Linked DNA regions of Homo sapiens: all the other regions are reported to be linked to region 1. The links are microRNA targets in miRTarBase. Many come from high-throughput screens and were not tested one by one. Region 1 holds a microRNA gene; each other region holds the end of a gene's coding sequence.

What was found. Region 1 holds the annotated microRNA hsa-miR-6808-5p (CAGGCAGGGAGGUGGGACCAUG, at 2,030-2,051, shown strand). A microRNA usually pairs through its seed, bases 2 to 8, with sites in the 3' UTR of a target mRNA and lowers its output. Matches are read on the target gene's strand: a 7mer-m8 pairs with bases 2 to 8, a 7mer-A1 pairs with bases 2 to 7 and ends in A, and an 8mer does both.
Region 2: the mRNA of SLC35F1 is a reported target of hsa-miR-6808-5p. Seed matches in the 3' UTR shown: 7mer-m8 at 5,148-5,154 and 7mer-m8 at 4,510-4,516.
Region 3: miRTarBase lists NMUR1 as a target of hsa-miR-6808-5p. Seed matches in the 3' UTR shown: 7mer-m8 at 5,762-5,768.
Region 4: miRTarBase lists TIFA as a target of hsa-miR-6808-5p. The part of its 3' UTR that is shown has no 7-base or 8-base seed match.

The regions. Positions count from the first base shown.
Region 1 is chr1:1,334,615-1,341,732 of GRCh38, reverse strand. MIR6808 (microRNA 6808) reads left to right here and starts at 2,025; the gene lies at 2,025-2,083. It overlaps TAS1R3 (taste 1 receptor member 3), which reads right to left. Exons shown (of 6, transcript NM_152228.3): 6 at 6,419-7,118. It overlaps DVL1 (dishevelled segment polarity protein 1), which reads left to right. Exons shown (of 15, transcript NM_001330311.2): 5 at 1-66; 6 at 1,230-1,323; 7 at 1,417-1,486; 8 at 1,556-1,695; 9 at 1,921-1,997; 10 at 2,084-2,151; 11 at 2,294-2,446; 12 at 3,080-3,211; 13 at 3,297-3,464; 14 at 3,550-3,756; 15 at 5,218-6,455. The coding sequence ends at 5,591. RefSeq lists a silencer at 3,730-3,789.
Region 2 is chr6:118,313,585-118,320,702 of GRCh38, reverse strand. SLC35F1 (solute carrier family 35 member F1) reads right to left here. Exons shown (of 8, transcript NM_001029858.4): 8 at 3,032-6,675. The coding sequence ends at 6,451. Among named protein-coding and RNA genes, the nearest start is that of PLN, 230 kb to the left of the region's middle.
Region 3 is chr2:231,518,696-231,525,813 of GRCh38, forward strand. NMUR1 (neuromedin U receptor 1) reads right to left here. Exons shown (of 3, transcript NM_006056.5): 3 at 4,492-6,730. The coding sequence ends at 6,348. Among named protein-coding and RNA genes, the nearest start is that of LINC00471, 7.9 kb to the left of the region's middle.
Region 4 is chr4:112,272,114-112,279,231 of GRCh38, forward strand. It overlaps TIFA (TRAF interacting protein with forkhead associated domain), which reads right to left. Exons shown (of 2, transcript NM_052864.3): 2 at 2,424-6,321. The coding sequence starts at 6,303. The coding sequence ends at 5,749. AP1AR (adaptor related protein complex 1 associated regulatory protein) reads left to right here. Exons shown (of 10, transcript NM_018569.6): 10 at 1-997. Among named protein-coding and RNA genes, the nearest start is that of TIFA, 10 kb to the right of the region's middle.

The DNA.
Region 1 (7,118 bases):
CGCCCTCAGCAGCGAGCTTGAGTCCAGCAGCTTTGTGGACTCGGACGAGGATGGCAGCACGAGCAGGTGTGTGGGAGTGTCTGTGGGCGTGTATGCCTGTGTGCCCACTTGCAAATGTCTGTACATGATGTGCATGTGTCTGCATGAGGTGTTTTCACATTGCACGTGTGTGCGTGTGTGTGCATGTGTGTGCCTGCAAATGTCTGTGTACATGATGCACGTGTGCTTGTGCACGTGTTCCACATGAGGTGTTTTCACTGTGCACGTGTGTGCGCGCCTGTGTGTGTGCCCGCGTGCAAACGTGTACATGATGCACGTGTCTGCTTGTGCATGTGTGTCTGTGTGAGGCGTTTTCACATTGCGGATGTGTCTGTGCATGTACCTGTGTGCAAACGTTTATGTACATGATGCGCATGTCTGTGTGTGCATGTATGTGTGTGTGAGGTGCGTTTTCACAGTGTGCACGTGAGCGTTTTCACAATGCACGCGTGTGCGCAGGTGTGTGCATGTGTGCGTGTGCGTGTGTGCAGGTGTGCGTGTGCAGATGTGCGTGTGTGCAGGTGTGCTTGTACAGGTGTATGTGAAGGTGTGCGTGCAGGTGTGCATGTGCAGGCGTGCGTGTGCAGGTGTGTGCAGGTGTGCCTGTGTGCAGGGGTGCGTGTGTGCAGGTGTGCATGTGTGTGCAGGGGTGCGTGTGTGCAGGGGTGCATTGTGCAGGGGTGCGTGTGCAGGTGAGTATGCAGGTGTGCATGTGTGCCTGTGCAGGTGTGTAGTGTGCAGGGGTGCGTGTGTGCAGGTGTGCATGCGTGTGCAGGTGTGCGTGTGTTCATGCGTGCGTGTGCAGGGGTGTGCATGTGTGCCTGTGCGCAGGGGTGCATGTGTGCAGGGTTGCGTGTGTGCAGGTGTGTGTGCAGGTGTGTGCATGTGTGCCTTGTGCAGGGGTGCGTGTGTGCAGGTGTGCATGTGTGTGCAGGTGTGCATGTGTGCAGGTGTGTCAGTAGTGGATCTGGCTACATGTGTCTGTGCCCAGTTTGCCTGTCTCTGGGATTTTCGTGTGTGCTCATATGCATATCACGTGTGCAGGGCCTGGGGCGTGGACGTCAGGCACTGAGCCTGCTTTGGAACAAGCCTGGCCTAGACCCCCGATTCCCACTCAGTATTGGGGGAGCGGGTTCCCACCCCCCTACCCATGTCTCCAGCTCCTCTGAGCTCTGACAGTCTGTTCCCAGGCTCAGCAGCTCCACGGAGCAGAGCACCTCATCCAGACTCATCCGGAAGCACAAACGCCGGCGGAGGAAGCAGCGCCTTCGGCAGGCGGACCGGGTAGGCAGCCGGGTGGAGCAGGGCGGGGCTGGGGAGGCGAAGTCAGTGTCGGGCAGCCCCGTGCCTTTTACACACGCCCCCTCTCCTCCATAGGCCTCCTCCTTCAGCAGCATAACCGACTCCACCATGTCCCTCAACATCGTCACTGTCACGCTCAACATGGGTGAGGCCTCGGGGCGAGGGTTGGGGGCAGGGGCAGGGGCTTGGCCGCGGCTCATGGCTCTTCCTGCAGAAAGACATCACTTTCTGGGCATCAGCATCGTGGGGCAGAGCAACGACCGTGGAGACGGCGGCATCTACATTGGCTCCATCATGAAGGGCGGGGCTGTGGCCGCTGACGGCCGCATCGAGCCCGGCGACATGTTGCTGCAGGTGTGTCTGTGGGGGCTGCGGGGTGACATGTAGCTGCGGGTGGGTCCGTGGGGACTTTGGGGTGACGTGCGGCTGCGGGTGGGTCTGTAGGGGCTGCTGGGGGACATGCGGCTGCGGGTGGGTCTGCGGGGGCTGCTGGGGGACATGCGGCTGTGGGTGGGTCTGCGGGGGCGGTGGACTGAGCTGCACATCCTGCCTGCACCACCCTAATCCCCACCCCTGCAGGTGAATGACGTGAACTTTGAGAACATGAGCAATGACGATGCCGTGCGGGTGCTGCGGGAGATCGTTTCCCAGACGGGGTGAGGGCTGGGGGCGCTGGAGCGGGAGGGGCCAGGCAGGGAGGTGGGACCATGGGGGCCTTGCTGTGTGACCACCGTTCCTGCAGGCCCATCAGCCTCACTGTGGCCAAGTGCTGGGACCCAACGCCCCGAAGCTACTTCACCGTCCCACGGGGTGAGTGGCCCTCGGGGCACACGGGGCGGGATGGGGAGGGGGCGCCTACCTAGCCTGAAGGCCTCTCTCCTCTGTGCCCTGCACCCTGCCCTCCCACCCTGTCCATCTGTCCGCCTGTCATCGCCACGTGGCGGCCACCCAGCTGACCCGGTGCGGCCCATCGACCCCGCCGCCTGGCTGTCCCACACGGCGGCACTGACAGGAGCCCTGCCCCGCTACGGTACGAGTCCCTGCTCCAGCGCCGTCACGCGCACCAGCTCCTCCTCACTAACCAGCTCCGTGCCTGGTGCTCCACGTAAGTGGCAGCTCCTGAGGGCCCCAGCAGAAACCGAGGCTTGGAGGGGGCGTCTCTGCCAGCCTCCAGCATGGCCGCCTGTGGCCGTCATGGGGCTGTGACACGTGTGTGTTGCCTGTCCCCAACTCCCTGCACAGACGTGTGCACAGGCACCCGTGCCCACCTTGTGCAGCCCATCCTGCTCATGGTCTGTGTGTTGGGAACAGGGGATGTACGTAGGGCCCCTATGCGGGGAGCACCCACGGCGTCAGAGGCAGGGGCCAGGTCTCCATTCTGCTTCCTGCCATTAACACGACTAACAGCCTGCGCTCTCGGGTGGGGCATGCGGGGAGGGGAAGGGGCCTGCCCTGTTCTCATTACTTCCTGGTCTGCAGGGTGGGGTGTCAGCCCAGTTTGTGCCTAGGATCCTGATGAAAAGTGTCTGTAGAAGTGGGAGACTAAATGTCCAACCCCCCTGCTCACGCCCCAGCCTCACGGGGGTGCATCCTGCAGTGGGCCGGGGCCCTGCTGTCACGCACCGTCCAGCTTGCGCCCTGGCGCAGGCTCTGCCCAGAGGCTCCCCTGGGGGTGCAGGGCCCTGAGTCCCCCGCCTTCAGATGCTGGGGCTGAAGCGGGGCTGTCTGTGCTTTGCAGAGCTGGAAGAGGCGCCGCTGACGGTGAAGAGTGACATGAGCGCCGTCGTCCGGGTCATGCAGCTGCCAGACTCGGGACTGGAGATCCGCGACCGCATGTGGCTCAAGATCACCATCGCCAATGCCGTCATCGGTGAGTGGCCGTCCCCGCGGGCGGATAGTGCCAGGGGCAGGGCTGCTTGCCTCGAGGCTGCGGGCTGACCGCTGGTGCCGGCCAGGGGCGGACGTGGTGGACTGGCTGTACACACACGTGGAGGGCTTCAAGGAGCGGCGGGAGGCCCGGAAGTACGCCAGCAGCTTGCTGAAGCACGGCTTCCTGCGGCACACGGTCAACAAGATCACCTTCTCCGAGCAGTGCTACTACGTCTTCGGGGATCTCTGCAGCAGTGAGTGGGGGCTTCGGGCTTCAGGGCGGGGGGGAGGGGAACGCCGGAGGCCCCTCCGCGGCCCTCACCTACCCTCCCCCGCCAGATCTCGCCACCCTGAACCTCAACAGTGGCTCCAGTGGGACTTCGGATCAGGACACGCTGGCCCCGCTGCCCCACCCGGCTGCCCCCTGGCCTCTGGGTCAGGGCTACCCCTACCAGTACCCGGGACCCCCACCCTGCTTCCCGCCTGCCTACCAGGACCCGGGCTTTAGCTATGGCAGCGGCAGCACCGGGAGTCAGCAGAGTGAAGGTGAGAACGCCGCCCCTACCTGCCCTTCCCCGGCTCCGCCCCCAGCTCCGCCCCACTCCACTGCTGCTCCGCCCCCAGTTCCACCCCACCCCGCTGCTGCTCCACCCCCAGCTCCACCCCACCCCGCTGCTGCTCCGCCCTGCTTCTCTGCTGACCCCAATCCCATGCTCCTGCTGTGTACTTGGGCCCTGGGTGGGCTCCTTCTGGAAAAGGCAAGTGCCAGGGGGATCCAGGAGCCAGTGTGAATGGGGAGGACAGGGAAGCGTCTCACACAGGGGCAGCCTGGACCCCACCTCATCTGGGTGGGATTGGGATGAGGGGCCTCCAGGAGCCTGGCGGCCTGGGCGGCTGTGCCTGGTAGGGGTGGCGGCTGGTGGTTCTCCTATGGTAGAGGCAGGAGGCCCTGAGACCATGTGGCCATGGGCCATGTGACAAGGACAGGGCAGGGGTGGCCAAGGAGTCTGACAGGGTCACTTTCTAGGCCCCAGGACACAGGAGGGTGGCAGCTGCAGCCCGGGTAGGGAGCCTGACGTGGATGGTGCCGTGCATCCTAGCCTTGTGCCCCTGGCTGGGGTGTGTTTAGGGGCCGGGGATCCAGAGTGTTCCTGAGGTGTTGCCTGGTGGAGCAGAGGCCCCAGTGGGTGGGGTTGGTGAGGCCAGCAGGGGCGTCTGCAGGCCAGGGAGGGGTGCAGGTGGCTTCGTGGAGGGCCCAGGAAGGAGGGCGAGAGAGGAGAGGCGGCCAGAGGGTGTGGGACCGCAGAGAAGCCACGCTGGGTGTCTACTGACCCTCGACCGGCGCTTGCGCCCACTTCAGCCCCGCCCAGCCCGCGGTCAGTCCCCACTGGTGGCGGGTGGGTGCTGGGCAGGTGCCAGGCAGCCGGGCGTGTAACTCGTGCTATCCCTTGTCTTGTGCTAAACAAGCCTTAGACTGAAGGACTAGCGGAGCGGACCTTGGGCCGGTAAGCCAGGGTCCCGCCCGGGGTCCCTCAGCATGTCCCCAGCCAGCCACGCCCTCCAGCTCCCACTGCGTCTTGGGAGCCCAGGACAGGGCTGAGCTGAGTCATCCGTCGGCCAGGGTCCTGGGCCGGGGGGACAGTGGGGCCTTGGGTGGGGAATCCAGGATGGCCACGGGGGCACCGGGCATGAGGGGCCCTCGCTGGCACCTCAGTCTTTCAGCCGCAAGACCAGGCCCTCAGCTCAAGCATCGGGGTGAGGTGTGGGGGCGCCCAGCTTGCCCCAGGACCCTGCCTGCCTCCCACTGCCCCCACCAGCCCATGCCTGCCGCAGCTGCCCCTGCGACCCTGGGGGTGCCGGCCCTGTCCTCGCGCCTGCATGGCTGCCCCACCCACCCGTCCTGCACGGGCCACCGTTCCTGCCCGGTCACCTGGCGGGGGCGGTTGTTCTGGACGTGGCCGGGCCTGGTGCTGACAGGCTCCTTCCCCATCCTGTTCTCACTCCCAGGGAGCAAAAGCAGTGGGTCCACCCGGAGCAGCCGCCGGGCCCCGGGCCGTGAGAAGGAGCGTCGGGCGGCGGGAGCTGGGGGCAGTGGCAGTGAATCGGATCACACGGCACCGAGTGGGGTGGGGAGCAGCTGGCGAGAGCGTCCGGCCGGCCAGCTCAGCCGTGGCAGCAGCCCACGCAGTCAGGCCTCGGCTACCGCCCCGGGGCTCCCCCCGCCCCACCCCACGACCAAGGCCTATACAGTGGTGGGGGGGCCACCCGGGGGACCCCCTGTCCGGGAGCTGGCTGCCGTCCCCCCGGAATTGACAGGCAGCCGCCAGTCCTTCCAGAAGGCTATGGGGAACCCCTGCGAGTTCTTCGTGGACATCATGTGACTCGTGGCGCATGCCCCAGCCCTGCCTGAGGTGGGGAGCTGGCGGTCCTGCCGCATGCAGAGCTCGCGTGGGCTTGCCTTCGTGGGGGCCAGGACGGGAGGCAGGGTGGGGGGCAGGCTGGACCACCACCATCTGCCCTGGCAGCCTGGCTGCTCCAGCTCCTGACAGCACCTGTGTCTGAGCAGCCGTGTTGGGGGCGCTCCCTCTCTGCCCCTCAGCGAGAGCCTCGGACCTCCCAACCCCTTGTGTCTGGTGGGGATCCCTCCTGGGATGAGGAAGACCCCCTCGGGCTCTCGGCTGACCCCCACCTCCTGCACAGCTGTGCCCAGGCCCCCAGGGTGGTCCATGCGGGGCAACCCCCTGCGGTGCACAGGCCCCCTGTCTGGAGTAGGGATCTAATTTATTTATTTATTGCCTGGCCGGTGACTCGGGGGAGGAGGCGACCCTGTCATCTGTCCCACCTGCTGCTGCCCCTTGGAGCAGCCTGCACCTTCTCTCCTCCCATCCGGCAACAGTCTGAAAGTACGTGGAGGACGGGACCGGAAGACGAGAGAGGGCTGGACATCCTGCCCACCGTGTCCCAGCCAGGGCAGGGAGGGACCATGGCCCGCAGGGTCAAGGGGCCCCGATGTGCACAGCTGCCACAGGGAGGGAGGTCTTGGGGAGATGGGCAGTCAGGTGGCCCGTCCTTGGTGAGTGCACACACTGCGCGCACACATCGCGGCCTTCCTGGCTTCTCTGGCCCCCACGTGTCTGTGCTGTAGATACTGTATCAAAGTCCCAGCGTTTAGATGGTTAACATAGAGCTGCTTCTGTGTAAATGCTGCTTATTTTAAACACTAAAAAGCGTTTAATTTTATGGGACAGATGTGTGGCCTGTGCCCCTTCTCTCCGGCTGGGCTGCCTTGGAATGAGGCACAGGGAGCTGGTCCAGCCTCCCCTAGGCCCTGCTGGGAGCTGACCCTGGGACTCTGACCGGAGACCCTGTGTGGGCCTGGCGGCGTGCTGGCGTCAGATCCTGGTGGGCAGTTTTCTGTCCATGGTGCTGGCTCCGGGGTCCTGGTGGTCGGTGCTGGCCGTGGTGCTGGACCCCGCCCCCACCCCACCTGGGCTCTGTCCCTGGTACTGGTGACAGTCATGATGCTGTCTACCCACTGGGCAAAGGGCAGAGTAGGAAGCTGGGTGCCACCCCTACCTCGGCGGGCTCTGCCCTGGGCATATGCCTGTGTGCCCCCACCTGGCCTCCCACTGCTGTGGTGCCTGGCAGGGTGCAGGATGGGGGCCCTGGTGGGACATGGTCAGGTCGGCAGGGCCTGATTTGGGCTTCCAGCCATCTGGCCGGGGCCTCCCTGCGTCCTTTTCCTGAGCTCACGGTGTGGGTTGCGGGTACCCTGGGAGCCCTCCGGGCCTCTTTCCAGAACAGTGGGTCTGGGTTACCTGGGCAGGCCTGGTCTGGGCACAGAGGGACAGGGACACAGCTTGGCTCTGGGGCCCAGATGGTCACAGGGGTGTCCACGTGCTCCAGGC
Region 2 (7,118 bases), not on the chromosome of region 1:
TTCTCCCTGCCTATAAAGACAAGGCCAAGAAAGGCATTAATGAGACCCAACTTTGCACAAAAATAGACATTATCACCCCATGTTTCAACCTACTAGCCCAAAGTTCCAGAAGTGGTATTTGTGGACCCTGTTGGGAAAAAGTTGAGTGAACGATGGTTTTGATCGACTGCCATAGTCATCTACTCTTCAGTGCCTAGGAATCTACTTCTCCCTCTCATGAGAGCTATGCATTCATTTATGCAGGCATTTATTTGTCATTGGCATTTCTTGAAATGGATGGGTGTGTAGGCTTTTACTGTAATTTATGAATAATTTTAAATAATTCCAGCAGTACTGCCTCTTTTAGGGTCACCTGTTTCTTTCTTGCTTTTTTACATTTTTACACATTTAGCAATGAAACAGTGGGGAAGATGCTTGAGATATCACCACTGGAACTCCTCTCATTGCTCTACCAACCTTGGCCATAGATGATTCCAAGAAGGAGGTCTGAACAGTCAGGCTGAGGCCAGTGTGCTGCTTTCCAGCAGTAAGAATCCACAAACACCCTCACCATTGTGAGCAGGTGGTTGCCTCCACCCCGCTATTCTACTGCAGACAGTGACAGCTAGTGTCAGGAAGATGTAGCAATCCACTGTGCTGCTGGCCTCCCAGTGGGAGGGCTGGACCAGTGCATTTCTTAAAGCCAGTGACCACACAGGCAGGTTCATCTGGGATGGACCACGTCTACACCTGTTGTCCAGGCATCATTACTGAGTGCCCACTTTCACTTTTGAAAGTGTTAACAATTGGATAATGAATTGCATACTCGGCCCACTTAATGTCCCCTTGTAGCTCTGTCATCTATTAGGTGACCTAACATTTACATTTTTAACCTATACCAGCAGTTTGAGGCAATGAGTTCAGGAAGATTATTCTCCATTGTGTGAAGTAATATTTACCTTTATCTGTCCTGAAATTATCCTTCAAGCGTTATGGGATTGGTCCCAGCTTTAATGCTGAGGCTCAGTGAACAAGCTCATTTGCATGCTTTTACAGATTTTAGTTTTGTCCACACCAGGCCTTTGTCCATCCAGATGGATGGCCCTAATCTTAGAGCCTATTCGCAGAGACCTCCACCCTCTGATCATTAGCTTCCCTTGTTAATCAGGCTGTAGTAGTGTTTGGAGGCAACTTGTCTGAAAAGTGATGCACAATGGTTTGTCCTTTCAGGCACTGATGAAAGGCCGTCTGGTAGGGGAAGGGCTTTCCAGCTGTATTATAATTTTTTTTGAATTAAATGTTTTTTCTTTTTCTTTTTTTTAAGCATATAGAGAATGAAAGGAACCTGCCTAGATGGCTCATAGTGAGCCCTCTGTTTATGCTTGCAGAAAAAAGAAAGAACGAAAAATAAACAAAAAAAAAAAAAGAGAAGAAATCAAGGAAAAAAGGAAGAAGGAAAAAAGAAAGATCAGTGTATATAACTAAGAAGGAATATTATAAATTCAAAACACTATTTGCAGGAGAAAACAAAACAAAACTTTGCTTTGTTATTTCATACCTCAGGCCTGAATTTGAAAGGCCAAATATTGTAAGCGATTGTAAAAAATTCCCTAGAAGGGTGCATTTAAGTGGACATGGTGATTTCTTCCTTTCCAAGATGCAGGAATTTTACAGAAAAAAAAAAGTACTCGAGAGTAATAGAAGAAGAAAGGAACATTTTGTAACAGAATATCTTACCCTTGTACTTTGTATTTATGGTTTAGAAGCTTGATTCCCTTAAAACAAGATGTATGAGTGCCTTCCATGTGCAAGGTGTTTTGCTGGGCACTGAAAATATATAAACTGGATCTAATTTCAGCTCTTGTTATTTTAGACATTACGATTTGTTTTCTTGTGGAACATTAAGACAATATAATAAATTACAGCCTTCCTGCTGAATTTTACTTGTTTCTATTTTTCTCTCATGCTAATAGTCATGAGAATCACTCAAGTGCTTCCTTCTCTTACCATTGCAAGGACTTTCAAGTTCTTTAGGAAACCCGGTTCTTTCTCTTAAGAAAACAAATCTTAATTCATTGGGGAAACATGACATACATTTATTGTATATACAATCTGAGCCCCAATCAATTGGAATTGCTGCACATTTGGACAGAGGCTGGGCTGAAGTTCAACTTTATTTCATCTTTGATCAAAGAGCTTACTAAATGGAAGTAAACAATACTTTAGAGAAAGATTGACATTTTTTTCAAGGAAAAAAACTGATTTAAACTGAGAGTCACATTTCTCAAGCAAATTACTTATGTTAAGTACATGCTATTCCAACTATTTATAAAAGCAGCTCATGATGGATCTCAACCTGAGAGCACTTTATAAAGCACTTAGTGTCCTACAATTCCTTTTTTCCTGAAAAATGAATGTTTTTCTTTAAACATTATTCTTAATATATAACTCAGACACACAGTCTTCTTGGCTCATTTAATTTTTGAGGTCTGATTGCAAAAACTGACAAGAACATGTAAATGTATTTATAATCTAGGTACTTATGGGGATAGATTTATAATCTAGGTACTTATGGGGAGTGACAGCAGTTAGTAGAGGAGGGATGATTATAAGATGCTGTGTAAGTTCTGAGCAGAAATCTGAGCAATCTCTGCTTTATAAACATTGCACTCTGGAAGAATGCTCATCCGTTAAGTCTGTTGTGTGCCAAGGCCAGCATACACAGAACTTTCTTCTTTATGAGAAACTTTTCCTTGGGGGTAAATTTATATTGTCTTACATGTGTTTTAAATGTGGGCTTGAAGCCCCAGAGTGTTCTTATGTACCCAGATAAATAATTAACTTTGCAAACTATGAACATGTTTAATTTGGCTTTTGAAACTATACTTCTGAGACCAATTGTGCCCTTCCTAATTTGGAAATATTTTCTTTCTGGTTTTTATTTCGACATGTACCCAGCCATCTACTTTTGTTGCTATTTCTAGTATCCCAAGGGAGCTGCTTCCACGGTTGTCATAGTGCAGACAAACACAAAAGAAAACCAAGAATTCGGTGCTTTCATAAAGCATTTATTTTTATTTGAAAACATTATACAGGCATTACATTGCCACAGCCAGTCCATAGGGGAGCATGCAAATATCAAAAATGGACAGTTTGTTGAACTTATCGGTGTAACTTTTTTTTGGTTCGTATTTTCCATTTGCAGTGTTGTCAGAATTAGTGTGCTTTGTTATGTGGCTTAACAATAGAATCCTACCCATGGGGTAAAATCTGTACTGGTAGCTAGCTGGGGACTACTAAATAGTTATAAATCAAAAAGAAACCCAAAACAAACAATACTACACGCTTGTCAAAAGGTTAATAGCACAAGTTAGCAATATCTAAACTAAACATTGAAACAATTTCATGGGACACGGTGGTGCAAATTTTTCCATTGCTTGATCACCTGGTCATGTATTTGAGAGTATGTAGATGTGGGAAGGTCTGACCAAGGCAAGCGCTGTCCCCAGTGCAAGTTTTCATTGAGGAAGTGAGAACCACCACTTAATCTCTAGCAGGGTTCAGGAGAATTGTGGTTCGCTCTTACCTGATCAAATTCTATATAAATTGCTAAAGTCTTATTCATTGAGGAGAGATTGGTGGTGGAGTTAGAAACTGAAAATTTTGCTGGTGTCTACTGAGGTTATGAAATCTCAGAAACTAAAACAGCTAAAGTTAATGTTGTCCTACTCCCATTTCCCGCCCCATTCCCAAAGGATCAGTGTTTTTTACACAGAAAAAGAATTTGTTCTTTGCGATTTTTTTTTTCCTGGAGGGTCAGTCTGGAACTCCTGATCTTGAACAATTCAATATATTATCAACCTTTCTAAATGGAGACAAACCAACACATTGAGGTCACCCAGGGACATGAAAGTCTGAGTACAAGGACACCGAATGATAAAGGGTATACGGCAAATTCATCTTAACATTCACACTTGGTTTCCATACAATGGAGTCAATTAAAATATCCTATAAAATAATTCAGATGGCAACCTTTAGCCATCTGTTGATTGCAAACTTTTTGGAAATTTATATTTTTAAAAAACTCCAGTCTACTGAGTGGACTTGGAGATAATTTCATCCACTTGCTTCTCATAAGACTTTACTAAGTGTCTACAAATTAATGTCATAAAAATGAATCAAAGATGAAAACATCTGGCTTAAAATAAATACTAAAAATGCAATAAATCAAGCAAATTATTCAAACCAAAGGAATGTAAACACAAAAATAAAACCACAGTCTTTAAAGGTCTTCGGATCTGAATGGACAAAATATTCAGAGAAAGGTATTTAATTGGTTTAAAAGGTAGCAGAGAGAAGATGTTGGCAAAGTTGTTTTGATTTGATAGAGCTTTAACGCTGATATTTTCCCCATGGAAAATAAAACATGTTTCCTAGGGGGCTGAACTGAGATGACCATTACATCCGAATATCAGAGAAGATAATTTTTCTTCTCTATCTCCAAGGGTAGGTCCACTTACCCGTTATAGAAGGCAGGCAAAAAGGCCATGTGGGTGCTGACAGACAGTGTGGGATGCTTTTGCCTGCCAGATTTAGGCCTTGTACAGGCACTCTGGGATCAGTCCTTCTACTGTAGTCTGTCCTTTTACTTTCCAGAGACCCCACTGGTGTTTTGCTTTGCTTGCTTATGTAACACATGTTGATTTGAATTGCCCAATGTCTCATAAACATGTATTTTTCCCCTATAAACCCTGTAACTCCATTGAGGATCTTTTTGAATGGTATTGAAGTCAGTCAAACTAAAAGAGTACATCACATACTGACACATAGAATCTATTCTAAATAATAGAGGTCTGTGGTGTTTCTTAATTTCCTGTGTTTGAAAAAAGGGCTATTTTAAGGGCAACAGATTAGACTAGTGACATATCACTCAAGGTCTTATCAGGATCCTGCAGTATTCTCTGGGTCCATAAGAATGTCGTGTCGGCCGGGCGCAGTGGCTCACGCCTGTAATCCCAGCACTTCGGGAGGCCAAGGTGGGCGGATCACGAGGTCAGGAGATCGAGACCATCCTGGCTAACACGGTGAAACCCCATCTCTACTAAAAATACAAAAAATTAGCTGGGCGTCGTGGCAGGTGCCTGTAGTCCCAGCTACTCGGGAGGCTGAGGCAGGAGAATGGTGTGAATCCCGGAGGCGGAGGTTGCAGTGAGCTGAGATCGTGCCACCGCACTCCAGCCTGGGCGACAGAGTGAGACTCCGTCTCAAAAAAAAAAAAAAAAAAAAAAAAGAATGTCGTGTCAATATATCTGTTATTGAATGGATGCCAAATATGACCAAAATGCCAGACTTTTTCAATGATGACATTGTTACCACTGCAAAGTGGCCAAATCAATTAAGCCATTTTCAAAGACTGCTCCACATCAGCACCTTGACTTTGTTAGGAGGTGGCACAACCAATGATTTTCCACAATAAAGGTAATTTCCATGCTGGTGTATTTTTAAAAAGGTGTCACAGAATTAAAAGGGCAGAGGACCATGGCTTTTTCCAGTGCCTTGATTAATTTCCATATTATCACTAAGGAAATCTGGAAAAAAAATAAAAGATAGTTTTTGAAGAGAGGCTACAGGGAGGAGCAGAAAGATTTTATAATTATATATTGTCCTAAACACAAATGATATTATTTCTGGGGGCTCCCAAAAGCCACAGTAATGGAACAGTCCTTATCCTGTTATTACAGGGACTTGATTAGCAGAATCACGTGGCACAACAGAAAGGCAATGGCCTGGAGTAATCAGAGATCGAAATATAAAAAGGCTAAAATGTTTCTTTTATATCTATTCCTAGAATAGAGAAGTATATGGTCAGTTGCCCCTCCCCACAAAGGTCACAGCACAAAATACTTATTGAGCAGGCAATCCAACAGGTAACAGAGGAAACCATTAACCACCAGGTCCCTAGGAAAAGGAAACTTCTCAGGGGTGGAGCTCCTGTGGCATGCATCACTCATATAGTCTGTGCAAAAAAATAAAGTATGACTCTTAAAAAGTGAATTGCCATAGAAAAGTGGGGTTTATGTTGACTACATGTGGGTCTGGCAATAGTTTCCATCAGGAGTACAAAACATCCTCCTGAAAGTTGGTGTAATAACAGTAACAGCAATAATAATAATACAAATCATAATAACAATAATACTTGCTTTTGATTCAAAAATTTTCACAGTAATGAATGCAGGGGAGTTGTGATCAGGATACACGTTAGCTAGGCATCCTTCCAAGTCAGGTGGATTAGAGCCTGTGTCTCCAGTGATGTTGAGCTTGTTCCTTTCACAAGCTTTTGGAGGATTTGCTACCTTGCAGTCCACCTGTGTAAACTGCACCTAGTAAATACCTTTCTCTATGTACAATACAGAGATGATGGGCAAAAACATGGCCAATGAGTTGGCCTCAGTTGGCAGGGCGGGCCTCACCCTAGGCCACACGAACATGAGGCTCCTCTTCGGTCTCCTGGCCCAGGCTGGTGTAGGTGACTGAGGGTTCCACCTGAGCTGTGGTCGGTAAGTCCACAACAGGTCCTGAAGGATTGCGGAACTGCTTATACACTCGGGGGTCCTGGGCTATGTAGGTGGAGGTGGAGGAGTAGAGCACCAGCCCAATGAGGATGGTGAAGAAAGACAGGAGATAAAGTCCTGAAAACTAAAAAAACACAACAGTAAAGTCATTTGACAGCCAGGGCAGAACCACTGACACATTAATGAGGCACACAGAAACATGAGCAGAGCTGCTTCTTCTCAGAACAGGCAGCATGATGAGTTGGCCAACACCGTTGATGGAGAATGAATTTTCTCATCATAAACTGGCTTGGTCCTATTGATTCTCCTTATCTTTCCTAGACCCTGTGGCTAACACAGAGGAACACTTAGCTAATCATCTCTAAAGTGCCAATCTGAGGATCTGGTATGGTGCGAGAACTAGTTAAGCACAAATTAAAATGCATCAAGTTAAAAGCAAAAAATCTCCAGTATCAGTCAATAAAAAGTTGGTTGTTTGTGGCTTCATTAAACCTAGAGAAATACAGATATCCCCTTTAGGGTTGTAATGAAGCCATAAACAATGAACCGCTCACTGACAGCTGCATC
Region 3 (7,118 bases), not on the chromosome of region 1:
GAGACGAACAGGGAGAAAGACTGGAGGGAAGGTTCCAAGTCCAAGTTCCAGGAAGGGTGGCCAGGGAAGTCCACGCGCCAGCAGTGATGATAGTGGACCTCAGTTGCTTTGCTTTTGTGTGTGCCTGTCCAGTGTTCATTCTGCCTCCTGACATCCCTCATTCCCTTTAGGCTCTCCACCTCCTCCCCTGATTCAGTTTTGGTGGAACTGCTTCCCTGGCCAAAGCTCAGGGGCCAGTCAGACCCTTCTCCCCAGGACTTGGGCGCATCACCTCCTCCTGGAAGCCTTCCCTCGGCTGGGGCAGGTGCCTCTCTTCGATGCCTGAGTTCCAGCTGTCAAAGCACTTATATGCCAGTATGTTTATCTGCCCTCTCCTTCACCCCGCCTCAGCCTTGAAAAGTGCCTGGCACATGGTTGGTGCTCAATAAATGTTGGATGAATGATGCCTGTGTTGCTTAGAGCTGAAGAAGGGGCTTGAATGTTAGATTAAAAGATTCCAGAAACTCTTGTGGATGTTCCATAGGATGTGGCTGCAGCTTCCAGGCTCTCCAGTCTAATTCCAGCCCATGGCCTCTTCTTATTGACCAGGGCGCACTTACCCAAGTTCGCCTTCCCTGAGTCCCCACTGTCCCGCACCTATGCGTCAGGCCTTTGATCCTGCCCAGTCCCCAGTTTTCCTGCCCTGCCTTGTGCAGAAACTTGAATGTTAGGTTGGGGTATTGCCTTGAAGGGGCCACAGAAAGAACATTTACTTTAGAGAGTCACCACCATCCTCAGACTACACCTTGTAGATTTAGAAACCTGGACACCATTTGGAACGATGTTGCAGACTGTCAGTGTTTGCCTCTGAGTCTCATTTGTGTGCAGGCAGATTGTACATTCTTTCTTTAGAAATGTCAGTACCTCTCAGTCCAGTCTGACTTTGGCCTTAGGTCATTCTGACATGTAAGGATAATTAGCAGCAGAACCAGGAGTCACAGCTGGGCAGCCCAACCAGAGAGTCCTTGCTCACCACCTCCACACTCCACTCTACTAACTCACAGTGTGTTAGAAGCACACTGGGGTTCTTTTCTTGTGCTGAAGAGGTTTAGACTGTTAGAAAAATGTAAGTATGAGTCAGGCGCAGTGGCTCTTGCCTGTAATCCCAGCACTTTGGGAGGCCAAGGCAGGAGGATCATTTGAGCCCAGGAATTCAAGACCAGCCTGGGCAACATAGTGAGACCCTGTCTCTATAAAATAAGATAAGAAGATAAGATAAAATAAAATAAAATAGTGTACGTATGTTTCTAGGATCAAATTCTGAAATCTGTCCTCATTTTTCCTGCCAGGAGGAGGAGGGGGATTAGAATAATTACAGAATATTACAGACTATAGTTTGCAGTTTAAAAGAAATCAATAATATTTGCTAATCTTAGAAACTGTAAAGATAACTGCTAGTAGAACAAACAGAATGTGTAACCTTCAAGCCAGTGGATAGATCAGTTAAGGTTCTTGGTTGCAAATGACTCCAGCCAACTTCAGCAGAAAAAGAACTTATTGAAATGCTCTCAGTAGCTCAAATATCAACAGGAAGGCAGGAAAAACTGGCTGAGAAAAAGGGCGGAACCCAAGACAGACTGGGCAGGATACTGCTGTCAGTGCTGCTGCCCCTGGACACGCCTGCCCCTGTTGTTGTGCGTCTTAGTGTCACTTGCTCCAGATACAGGTCCCACGTTGGGTCACCCAGCTGGCTTGGTCCATCATGTACCAATAGATGTCAGCAGTGGAGAGTGTCCAGAACTCTTTCACCCCTGTAAGTGGGAGACTGGGCTTAGTCTTCCACTGAGTCACACAATGAGAGATTCCCCCCAATAAGAAAGGAGTTCAAATGCTAGGGTGTGCCCCCTCTCCCCCACAAGGCAACTCCTCTCTACAAGGAAATTTGGTATATGTGCTGCTGAAGCCAGCACGCTACAAAGAAATTTGGAACAAGAACCTGATGGATCCATTAGAAGACAAGAATAGGGAAAGGGGAAGACTTGGAGAAGTGTACAAAAATGAGATAGGCTCCCAGATGCCAGGAATGATCTGGAAATGCCACCTGGTAATGAAGAGAACAGATGTGTAGTGCTACACACTTTACCTTTGCTGAGTAGATGCCTAACAGAAGGAAGGGTAGGCATATGCAGCTTTGTTTGTTGATGAGACTAATCTTGGACTTTCAATTTTCAAGGAAATTAAGCCTTTTTCTGAGAAGGGAAGAATTATTCCAGTGTACTCACCCTCAGGAACGCTGGCAGAGTAGGGTAGATGAACTGATGGTGGGATCAGAAAAGAAGTGAAGCTCAGAGGAGGCTGATGGATTGGGAGAAAGCCGTCTAGAACCTGGAAGTCTAGATGAGGTTAAAGAATAAATATGGCCGGATGCAGTGGCTCCCGCCTGTAATCCCAGTACTTTAAGAGGCCAACGGTGGGCAGATTGCTTGAGCCCAGGAGTTTCAAACCAGCCTGGGCAACATGGCGAGACGGTGCCTCTACAACACAAGAAAAACAATTAGCCAGGCATGGTGATGTGTACCTGTGGTCCTACTTGAGAGGCTGAGGTGGGAGGATTGCTTGAGGCCAGCAGGTTGACTGCTGCAGTGAGTCATGTTTGTGCCACTGCACTCCTGTCTGGGTGACCAAGCAAGACCCCATCTCAAACAAAAATAAAAGAATAAATGTGTCATAGGAGCAGAGAGCAGGATAGAGGCAGTAGCAGTCAAGAGCTCACACTTTCTGAAATGGGAGAGCACCTGGAGGCACAGGGAGTGAGGATGTGACCAAGGGGCTAGGAGACTGGGGTGGGGTCTCCAGAGCTGCAGGAACCATCAGTAGCTGGCACCCAGAGCAGCAGTGGGGTCACCCATGGACTCTGACGTCACCCAGGAAAGCAGCAGGAGTGGAGAAGAGGGGAAGTAGAAAGGGCCTGAACTCCACAGGAGGAGGAGGGATATGGTGACCTCAGTCGGAAGGGGAGGTGACTTGAGCCCCAGATGAGCTAGATACTTTGAGAAGCATGGAGGCCTCCTGACCTGGGAGTAGCACTGGGGACCAAGGAGAATGCAGCCCCAGCATGACCGGTGTTTTTGCCAGGTCTTGCTTCTGCCCTTTCCATTGCCATCCCTGTTTCTCAAGGGGTGAGTTCAGATCTGCTATTCCCGTTTTCCATGGGAACCAGTGACTGACAGGACCTGTTGCTGACGTGCTGCGGAGACATACATGGTGCTCACAAAGGGGCACCCTTCTTTTTTTTTCTCTTTTTTTTTTTTTTTTTTTTTTGAGACAGGGCCTCACTCCAATTTGCCCAGGCTGGAGTACAGTAGCACAATTTTGGCTTACTGCAGCCTCGACCTCCTGGGCTCAGGTGATTTTCCCACCTCAGCCTTCCAAGTAGCTGGGACCACAGGTGTATGCCACCACACCTGGCTACTTTTTGTGTGTGTGTATTGTAGAGACGGGGGTTTCACCATGTTGCCTAGACTGGTCTTGAACTCCTGAGCTCAGGTGATCCACCTGCCTTGGCTTCCCGAAGAGCTGGGATTACAGGCATGAGCCACCATGCCCGGCCCAGAGGGCACCCTTCTAACAACCCCACTGCCCGTCTGCTTGCTGCCTGCACATGGAGGCCCTTCATAATGCTGTCCAGGGTGCCTCGAGCATGAGGTGCCTCTGACTGTGGTTGAAGCAGGCCTCTGGGAGTCCAGAGCTGGTCTTGAGAAACAACTTCAGGGTCCAGCCTGCAGTTTGGGATCCGGCATCTCCCCCTCCCACCCCAAGGCTACTTCCCTGGGAGCTCAGGGGCAGCACTCAGGTGCTCACGGCTCTGCACAGCTTTTCACAGGCTCCTTTCTCTGCAGAATCTCCCTGTCCCTGCAGTCACTCCCCTCCCCTATCCCCCACCCTCCCCCAAGGCCCACTTCTTAGGAGCTGTCCCCACTCAGGGCTTGACTGTGCATTCAAGTCAGGGCAGGCTCAGGGCCCCCCACTGAGGAAACCACCTCCGCCAACCAGCCTCCCCTCAGCTCCCTCATCCACTCTCTGGCCTCCACGAGGTCCCCACTTCTCCCATTTTCTCCCATTGTCCTCAGTGTCCCCACTCCCCACCCCCAGCCTCTGTTGCTCTCTGTCCGGGAGCCCCTGTGCTTCTCCCAGAACTTGTCCACTGGGCAGGACTGACAGGCAGGACGGCTCTTCCTCCCCCGAGCCAGGGACTTAGTAGGCAGGGGGCATCCAGGCCTTCCTGGCCAGCATCTGGGAATTCACCCAGATGGTTTATGCAAGTCCTACTCCCCCAGGGCTGGCCAAGGCCCATCAGAGTGGATCCCATGAGTCAAATGAGTGCAAGCGTGAGCTTGGATAGAACATCCACTGGACAAAAGGCCAGATACAAAATTGTCTATGTGTATTGTGTATATAAAATAAAACCACCATATGACACATCACTAGGAGGAAACATGCCACTGTTACTGCTTCAGAGTAAAGTTATGGGTGGTTTTAATTTTTTCTTTCCTTTAGATTTAATCCTCTTTTTATAAAAATTGTGGTAAAATACACATAACATAAAATGTACCATCTTAACCATTTCAGTGTATAGTTCAGTATTGTTATGTATATTCATATTGTTGCACAACTGATCTCCAGAACTTTTTCATTTTGCAAAACTGAAACTCTTCACCCATTAAAGAACTCCTCACTTGCCCTTCCCCCATTCCCTGGCAAGAGAGGTTTTACATTTTTAAAATTGTTTTCATTTTTGCTTATTTGCACTTTCCAAATTTTCTATCATGAGCATTTATTATTTTTATAATTGAATTTTTAAAACTAAACATCTGCAACCCTGTACCACGTCCTCCACTTTCTCGGCAGGGAGCATGAGCTATGGGCATGAGCTAGGAAGCTGTCTGCAGGGAGAACCCAGACAGACCGACCGAAGGTCATCCTCCAGCTCCCAGCCTTGGAAGCCAGGGCTTCCTCTCAGGAGGACAAGACTCAGGGACTGCAGCAGGACAAGTTTCCTCCATGAACTGAGTCCTGGCTGAGCAATGACTTGGCCTGCAGGGATTCAGAATGGGGCTCAGTTTCAAGGACTACTTGTCCCTGTCCCTCTTCTCACTGCATTGAGTTCGGCAGAACCCTCCACAGGGTCACTCCTTGCCCTTGGTTGGCCATGTCTCTTGCCCTCAGAGACCCTCTGGCCAGCCAAGTCCAATGCTCTGCTCACTGGACTCCCGAGCCAGCCTGCACGTATGTGAGGACGGAGGTGGGCTGTGGTGGTGGGGTCTGCTTGCATGCTGGCTTTGCCCCACTTGTGCTGGGAGAGGCTGGGGAGGGCATGGGGAGGTCAGGGAGGAAGTGGGGCTTGGGGTTGATAAAGATGCAGATAATAACTTCCGCCCTTTCAGTCTGAGGGTATTGTTGGTTTTATTATAAGCAGTGGCTTACACACACACAGAAAGAAAACCATAGCTAAAGTGCCAAAGCATGACACTGTGGAAAGCCAGCGCCTCTTTCATTTTTCAGGCAAGGAACCAAGGCCTAGAAAGGTGGACTGATTGGCCGGGTGTGGTGGCTCATGCCTGTAATCCGAGGACTTTGGGAGGCCGAGGTCGGCGGATCACCTGAGGTCAAGAGTTTGAGACCAGCCTGGCCAACATGGTGAAACCCCGTCTCTACTAAAAATTAAAAAAAATTAGCTGGGCATGCTGGGGCTCACCTGTAGTCCCAGCTACTCGGGAGGCTGAGGCAGGAGAATCGCTTGAACCCCGGAGGCGGAGGTTGCAGTGAGCCAAAATCGCGCCACTGCACTCTAGCCTGGGCGACAGAGTGAGACTCTGTCTCAGAAAAAAAGAAAGGTAGACTGATATGCTTGATGGTGCATGACAAGGTGGTGACAGCAGGGCTGAGATTGGAACCAGGTCCCCTGGATCCCTGGGCCCCTGCCAGAACCTGAACAGGAACTGGGAAGGACAGTGAGGACCCAGTGGGACCGTTTCAGAAACTGGCAGTGGTGGCAGGGAGTCCCCAGAGGGAGGACTGCTGAGCCCCAGCTAACTGTGATATTTCTGCAGGGTAAGGATTTGAACTGGGGGAGTGGCAGTGGACAGATAAGAAGCACAAGGTGTGGCGTCTGGTCAGTGTGAGTCCTCAGCAGTCAGGGATCCCTCCTCCTGCTGTTTCCCTCTGAGGGAAACTGAGGTGCTGGTCAGAATTTCTAGGCTGAACTAGGGACAGTACGTGAAGGCATCCCTGCAGAGGAAGGCAGATGTGTCTCCCCAGCTCCAGGTGACCCTCTGGCCCCTCCAGGTGAAGCCACTTTAAGGCTCCACTCAGGATGGATCGGTCTCTTGCTGCGCCTCTGGGCCATCGTTCCCAGCCAGGGGGTGGACCCAGCTGCCCAGGGAGCCCACATCACACAGGGTGCTGCCTGTGGTCATCCTGCTGAGGCTGTGGGAGCTGTGGCGGGGTCTGAGGCGATGGCAGCAGGCCCCGAGGCACAGGGCCTCCTGGAAGGTCTCTCGGAAGCGGCTGGACATGAGGCTATAGAGCACGGGGTTGGCCGCCGAGCCCAGGTAGAAGAAGATGCCGGAGATGACGTGCACGTGCTGGAAGGCCAGGTGCAGGCCATCTGTCCACTGTGACACGACGCTCCACATGACGCGGTCGGCGTGGAACGGGGCCCAGCAGATGCCAAACACCACGACCAGGACAACTGCAGGGACAGAGAAGGGAGGCCGAGTGCCCGCCCGAGGCCCCTCAGCTGCCTTCCCGGGCTTCAGTTTGGGTCACCCATTTTCACATCCTCTCCTATCCCACAGGCCACCCTCACCTATCACCCAGGTGGAAGTTTCTGGAAATTTGCCTGTTCTGGCCATGCCTCTCTCAGAGAGGCTGCCCTCACCATGGTCACTGACTGTGGGCAATGGGGCATATCCCTGCCTCTGACCACAGCCAACTGGACCAGGTGTGGACACCTAAGCCCAGCCGGCCCAATCAGATTCTCTCACCCTGGAATATGAAATTGGGTGACACTTAGCTGTGGCTGTTGAGCTTCTGGGGTGATACAAGCTGTGGGGCTAGGGCCACTCTGGATGCCCACT
Region 4 (7,118 bases), not on the chromosome of region 1:
ATAAAGAACAGCTAATGCAGACAATTTGAAAAGAGAGCAGAGAAATGGGGTAGCTGGAAGGGGATGTGGAGTTATAGAAGGGTTTTTATTTAAAAGATACTAGCTTTAGAGTAGATAGGCAGATATGAACAGGGCAGGACAGCGCCACAAAGACTGTGAGGGCTGGTGACAGGGAAGGGAAAATCTAACAGGAGACATCTTGAGCTCATGGGCAACAACTTCCCAATAAGAATTTAAGATGGCAGAGTTTGGCCTTCCTCTGGGGGCATGACCAGACATGCGCAGTAAGGGGCAAAATGACAGAGTTTGACAAATATATGACCTTCCCATGGGGCTTGGCCGGGAGTGCTAGCCCAGTAAGGGAAAATTGCCCTAAGAGAGCATGTGCATAACTTCAATCACCAAAAGGCCCTTCCAGATACTGGCAAACCACTGCACATACAGGGAGGGAAGAGATGGGGAAAAAAATAGGAAATAATAAATCTCTAAGAGCCCTAAGACAAAGGTCAAGCTGGGTACTCAATCTTTTGACGTCCCCCTTCGTTCCATCCAAGTGTACTTTTTTTTGCTTCAATAAACTCTTGTTTCTGCCTTAAATATAATTCTGTCTCTTGGCTGAATTCTTTCTCCCAAGAAGACAAAGATCAAGGACTATGGAGCGTGCCCATACTCACCACTGGTAACACTAGAACTTTTGAAATGATATATTTTGGAATTATGCCCGCTTTTTTTTCAATAGATAAATATATTTTTCTAGCAGAGGCCAGAGGTTTCGTTTAACTATGTAAACATGTCCTAATCATAATTTCTTGAGAATACAGACATCTAAAAAAGATTTTATGTTAAATATGTAGTGTTTTCCCATCTTCATTTATTTGGTATTTCTGGTTAATTGTCTGACAGTAAAGGAGTTCACAAAAGAAATCTGAGATTCCACATTGAAATCCTAAATGTAAAACAACAACAACAATAACAATAAAAATGGAGAGAAACAGAATCCCTGCATCTGATTCTTGAATCCTTAGGAAATATTAAAGGTGAAAATGAAATTAAATTTGGAAAATGATATTTAAAATTGTATATTATTATTTCAAATTTAAAGATTTATTTCCTCCTACCCAGATATAGTAATGTCCTCTGTAGTTCAGAAATCTTATATGAGACCATTAAAAATGAGGACCTAACTCTGCCCCATGCTACTCAGAGGAGCAGGTACTGTGTGTAAATGCTGTGGTAAGGAGACTACATACTTTATCTCTGATATTCACAGAGACCCTATGAAGGAGGCACTATTTAATCCTTGTTTTTCAAAAAAGGAATCTGAGTTATGTCAAATTACAGGAATGGTAGATAAACCCAAGCAGTATGACTCAGAGCCCACACTCAACACTGTACAATTCTTTCCGGTAGAAATTAGGTCAGTATTGTTTTCAGAGTTTTGGGGGCTTCAGGGGATTTTTTTGCTTAGCTATTAAAAAGAATGTGTCTAACCTGGGCGGGTGCGGTGGCTCATGCCTGTAATCCCAGCACTTTGGGAGGCCAAGACAGGCAGATCACCTGAGGTCAGGAGTTCAAGAGCAGCCTGACCAACACGGAGAAATCCCATCTCTACTAAAAATACAAAATTAGCCAGGCGTGGTGGAGCATGCCTGTAATCCTAGCTACTCTGGAGGCTGAGGCAGGAGAATTGCTTGAACCCGGGAGGCAGAGGTTGTAGTGAGCCGAGATCGCGCCATTGCACTCTAGCCTGGGCAACAAGAGCGAAACTCTGACTCAAAAAAAAAAAGAATGTGTCTAACCTAACTTTGAAGGATTAAAAAACTTTCAAGATGCCGAAAGTGATATTATTATAAAAAGGTACTGTGAACTAAGGGGAAATTTCATTGTCACACCTTATTGTGACTGTCTAATCTCAGAAGTTTTCTGTTTTAAAATGTCACTGTTGAATTAGCTCAGTTGATTGTTCATAGTCAGTTACAGATTGAATTTCTTGTTCTACTCTTTTCCCCCCTTCTGACTACTGCACTTGAGTAGTCTAAAAAAAAAAAAAAAAGTCACTGTCTTGATTTGGGCCTTCAAGCAGTTATTTTACTGTTGCCACTAAGCAGGGCCAAACTGGTTCATCTCTAGTCCCTTGGTAGCCTTCCATCAGCAACAAAATTATGAAACCAGCAACAGAGCTGAACCTAATGCCATCCCAGTTTCTTCACCAGTGCTCCCAGCCCTAAGTTCATTGCTTAAGAGGTAAAGGACAAATAAGTATTTTCATGTAGGTTGAATAGGTTGGATCTGAGGACAACCCATACCAACTAGAAACCTATTAAATTCCACCCACTTGTCGTAGGGCTCATCTTGGTCACCACCTGAAATGGAGACTGATAGTTTCAATCATGGTCCACTTAGTAAAATAATAACAAAGCCTGTTATCTTAATAATATAAGTAATTAATTAAACAAGTGTTAGAGAATTGGAAACATAAAAAGAGCCAGGAGGTAACATAAAACCATCCACCACATATACACACACACAAAGTTAACAGTAGTTCTCTTCTGGTAGTAAGATTATGGCTAATTTTTCTACAAGGCATATATATTTATTTACACATATAAATTTTTTTTTAATGTAAAGCTTAAGTGAACACATACCTGATCCCACCTCCATTAAAACAAATACCACCACTTATGTTAGAGTCTAACAGTAATACTTACTTTTAAGTCAGTTACTGCATTAGATAGTAGGAACAGAATTCTCTAGAAAATGGTTATATGGCCTATGAGATTTAACCACTGGAGTTGCAGGTTCAAGAAGAGACTGCCAAGGATTCTAACACTGGCACCATTAATACACCTCTCTACCTAAGGAGCCCCAGAAAAATCACTTTCCAGGGACAAAGAAGTCCTTAAAGTGTATATGGAAGGTTTCACATCTTAGCTTCAGTACCTTGTATCAAACACCAATATTTTTGTTTGCCCCACCCCCACCCCTGTGACCATTTTTTTGAGAAAATGCTGTATCTATCCACATGATCACTGACCAGAGCAGCCATTATATAATGTGACTGCGTTACCTGAGACAAGTTGATTGGTGAAGGGGTGGGCACCTGACCCAAGCTGACCCGTCCCTGGAACTGAAATCAAGAGATCAGGTCTCTTTGGGGGATCAATAACGTGTAAAACTTGGGAGCTACAGGTGGCCATGGAGCCAATATGCATTGAGGGTCAGAGCCAGAGCATTCGAATCTCACCTGAGGTCTGCTGCATTCCTTCCTCGGTTCTATGAAATATGGTAGCTTTCCTCTAACAACCCCGCTTTGGGGTTGGGTAGCTCAGGCAGAGATGCTAACTTTGTAATCAAAACAATTCTAATACTAACCAATTGCTCTTTCATTATTAAAGCGTTCATTATTATTTACTACCGGAGTTGGGCTATGGAAAGTGTTTCTATTCTTTGGAGAACAATATAAACTTTTAGCAACCCACTCTCTCCTTTGCCAATCTTTGAAGAAAAGAAAATAGAATAAAAAATTTAATATTTCTCAAGTTGAACAAAACCCTTTCCAAGATTTACATTAGGAGAAATCATTATTCTGTACAAGATTTTTCTGGCCCTAAATATTACTTAACACATTGTTTGGATTCAATAACAATAATACATGAATCCCTTAATATTAAATTTATAACTTAGAAACACATTCATCAGCCTCAAAGACAAGAAACAGAGGTGAAAGTCTTCCAAAATAGTCAAAATGTGACAGTATACACACATTAAAGTATATACACTTCACTCATAGAACGCCTTTACCATGAGACTACACACTGTAAGCAATTCAAGCCGGGTGATCTGGCTGTAAACCCACATCAGACCAGAAGCTAAAATCCTAGAAAGAATCAATAGTAGATAACCTTATATTAAAGGGAGTATATTAGTTTTCTATCTGCTGCTATAACAAATTACTGTGATTTAGTGGCTTACGACCAACACAAATTTATCATCATAAAGTTTTGTAGGTTAACAAGTCAAACATATTCTCACTGGACCAAAATCAAGGTGTCCACAAGACTTTGTTCCTTTCTGGATATTTCTTTGTCTTTTCTGGCTTCCAGATGTCCAATGCACACTTTCCAGCTTCAAGAGACTGTCCACATTCCTTGGCTCATGACCTCCCCTTCCTCCCAGCAACAGCAAGTCAAGTCTGTCTCACACCTCATCACGCTGACATCCTGATCTGCCTCTCTTCCACTTTTACGGATCCGGTGATCAATTGGGCACACCCAGATAATCCAGCATAATCTATTTTACTTCCATCTGCAGCCTTCATTCCCCTTTGCCACATAACAACACAGTTACAAGTTCTGGAGACTAGCACATGGACATCTGGACATCTTTGGATGGGCCATTACTCTGGGCATCACAGGGAATAAACAGGAAAACCAGACACAGGAACTCCAACAGTCATTCAGGCCACTTTGTACAGGGACAAATATTTCACTCTACTGGAATAGTCCCAGGGCTGGGGAGTCGGGGTTAGGGTGCTGGACATCACATACTACTGCCCAGGAATAGACTGACAGTCTGAATCAAGATGAGGTTTAAAGCCTCTTTTGGTAAGAGGCTGGAGGGTTCCCAAAAGCATTTTTAAAAGGCTGTTACAAAAATACGGACCTCTTACTACAGGAAATTTCATTTACCTGGAAAATTGTACAGTGAGCCTCACTACCTGGCAATGCTACAATTTAACTTAACTGAATGGTTACCTCATCTACTTAACATTCATAGCTACCTTAGTTAAGATAAGTCGAATAAGTATCTTAAATAAATAAATTTTTATTTAAGAACTGAAAAAGACTTTTTTGAAGTTAATATTTTAGAAATATTTAAGCGTTTATCATAAACATTCACATACATTTATCTCTGTAAAGTGGCCCAAGAACAGTTATTTCCCTTATTTAGAAAAAAATTCAAAGAAAATGGCTAATTAAACTTTGATTTTATTATGTACATGGATACTATTAAAAAGGTGAATTCGTGAAATTTTAAGATTGTGTATAACACATAAAAGTCAAACTTCTAATTTGGTAAGTAAATAATCCTAAACTTAACACAGTGGTTCTTTAAAATGTTTAAATATTTGTCTTAGATGCTGAATATAGACAAAGAGAACTGTCATCTTAGGAGTAAACACACTATAACTCTGTAAAAAGAAATCATAGAAAAGTAAGGTAGTATTTCTCAAATAAGTCCTCCCATGCTAAAACCACAGTGACGCGCAGACACTAGCCTAGAACCTATTCCAGTACTGCAAGTACTGACAGGCTGCAAACACCAGTAACAACCTGCCTGGAGCCTTGACCTTGAAAACAAATGGCTGTTGTGAACTGATGTGACCAAACCAAGAGATGGTTCCTTACAAAAACAAAGCAAAACACAAGATGAAAATCAAGCAGAAAAAGAAAATAATATAACCTTATTTTGAGAACACGACTTCATCTCAAAGGATACTTTTTGTATATTAATCCTCACAGATTAATAAGAGCAGTTAAAATAATTTTGTGTAGATCCAGAATACAACAGGTGACTAAGTTAATGACTAACACAATTTACAGACTTCAAAATGATAATACTGAATTCCAAATTTCACAGCATAACAGATGACTATAATATACTACCCTAATCAACTCTTATTTAGTGTCTATACAGCATCTACAGAGCTCTTCATCCATCATATTTCTCCTCTTAGACTTTCTGTGTTCATGACTCATTTTCATCCATTTCTGTCGGAGAACTGCTTTGGGAGGAGCAGAGCGAATAAGTGCCATACTCCGGTATGGGCCTGTGTGGTGGCCAGTTGTTTTCTTGCAAGAGTGATCTTGGAGATAAAATAAATTGAGTCTCAAAAAATTCCAATGACTCGCCATCTTCCTTCTCCATCAGAAACTGATACTCTCCGAATCTGACCATGCACCTGTATGGCAGGTCCATTTTATTTAGGTAGCCCAGCTCTCTGCTGTCCACGATCAGATTGGTCTTTTTACTCATATTTTTTATTTCAAAGGAGAGAACTGAGCTGTTGAATTTTTTAAACAGCTGCAGAGAAAACTGAACTCGGGAAACCTGTTTGTCCTGAAAAGTATAATGACAGATGTTGGAATTTCGGCCAAATTTCACCACTTCGCTGGAAGGGAGTTTCTCTCTGTTAAAACTTATTGACTGAAATATTCCACACTGCAACTGGCCAGGATGGTAAACCGTCATCTGGAGACAAGTTACTGTCTCTTCTGTGTCAGCATCTTCAAAACTGGTCATGATGTGCACAAGGCCCACCTGCAATAATTAAATTACCATGTTAGTTTCTGCTTATGCTTGAGGCATTGAGAACTTTGATTCTAACGTTTTGATGAACATCATCTGATAGGCAATTTATCTGGACTTTAAGAAAACAGTACATAGACAATACTTTCAGTGAACTAGTAGATATGTGAAATCTTATACCAAGCCCTATAAAATTGCTACACTAGCTTCTCCTATCTTTTTCATTTCTAGTTTGACTATAACACCATACATAAAATGCAGACAATAACAAAGAATGATTTTTGATAATAAAATGATTTGAGGGAAGCATAAAGAAACCTCAGTTCCTCTTTCACCTAAATAGAGTGACTTGAGCCCAGAGAAAATATGACAGGTGTACTTTAAAAAGAAAATTAGGAAATAAAAAATCTCTTTGGTTTGAATACCTTCAGAGGATATATACATAAAGCAAACATAGTTTATTAACTGGATTATAATTAAATATATTATGAATTGTGAAACCTGGTTAAAGAAAAAAACTTAATAGTTATAAACAAACAATTGTAACATTTATCCTTTATATCCTCACTTTGATTTCTAACAGGTAAATGATTAAAAATAGTAAATGCTTTAAATGGTTATTTTATTCTATAATTTCAAATTTTAGACATTACTTTTAAGAATATAAGTCTCCATGAGTTGGTTCTAATTATCACAGCCTGCACTGGTATCAGAATTATTTATTTTTGTCAGTGGTACTCAATGACTGGATGGACAAACTGTCATTAACTACAAATAGCACAGTCCAACTGTTGTTAACCACATCCCTT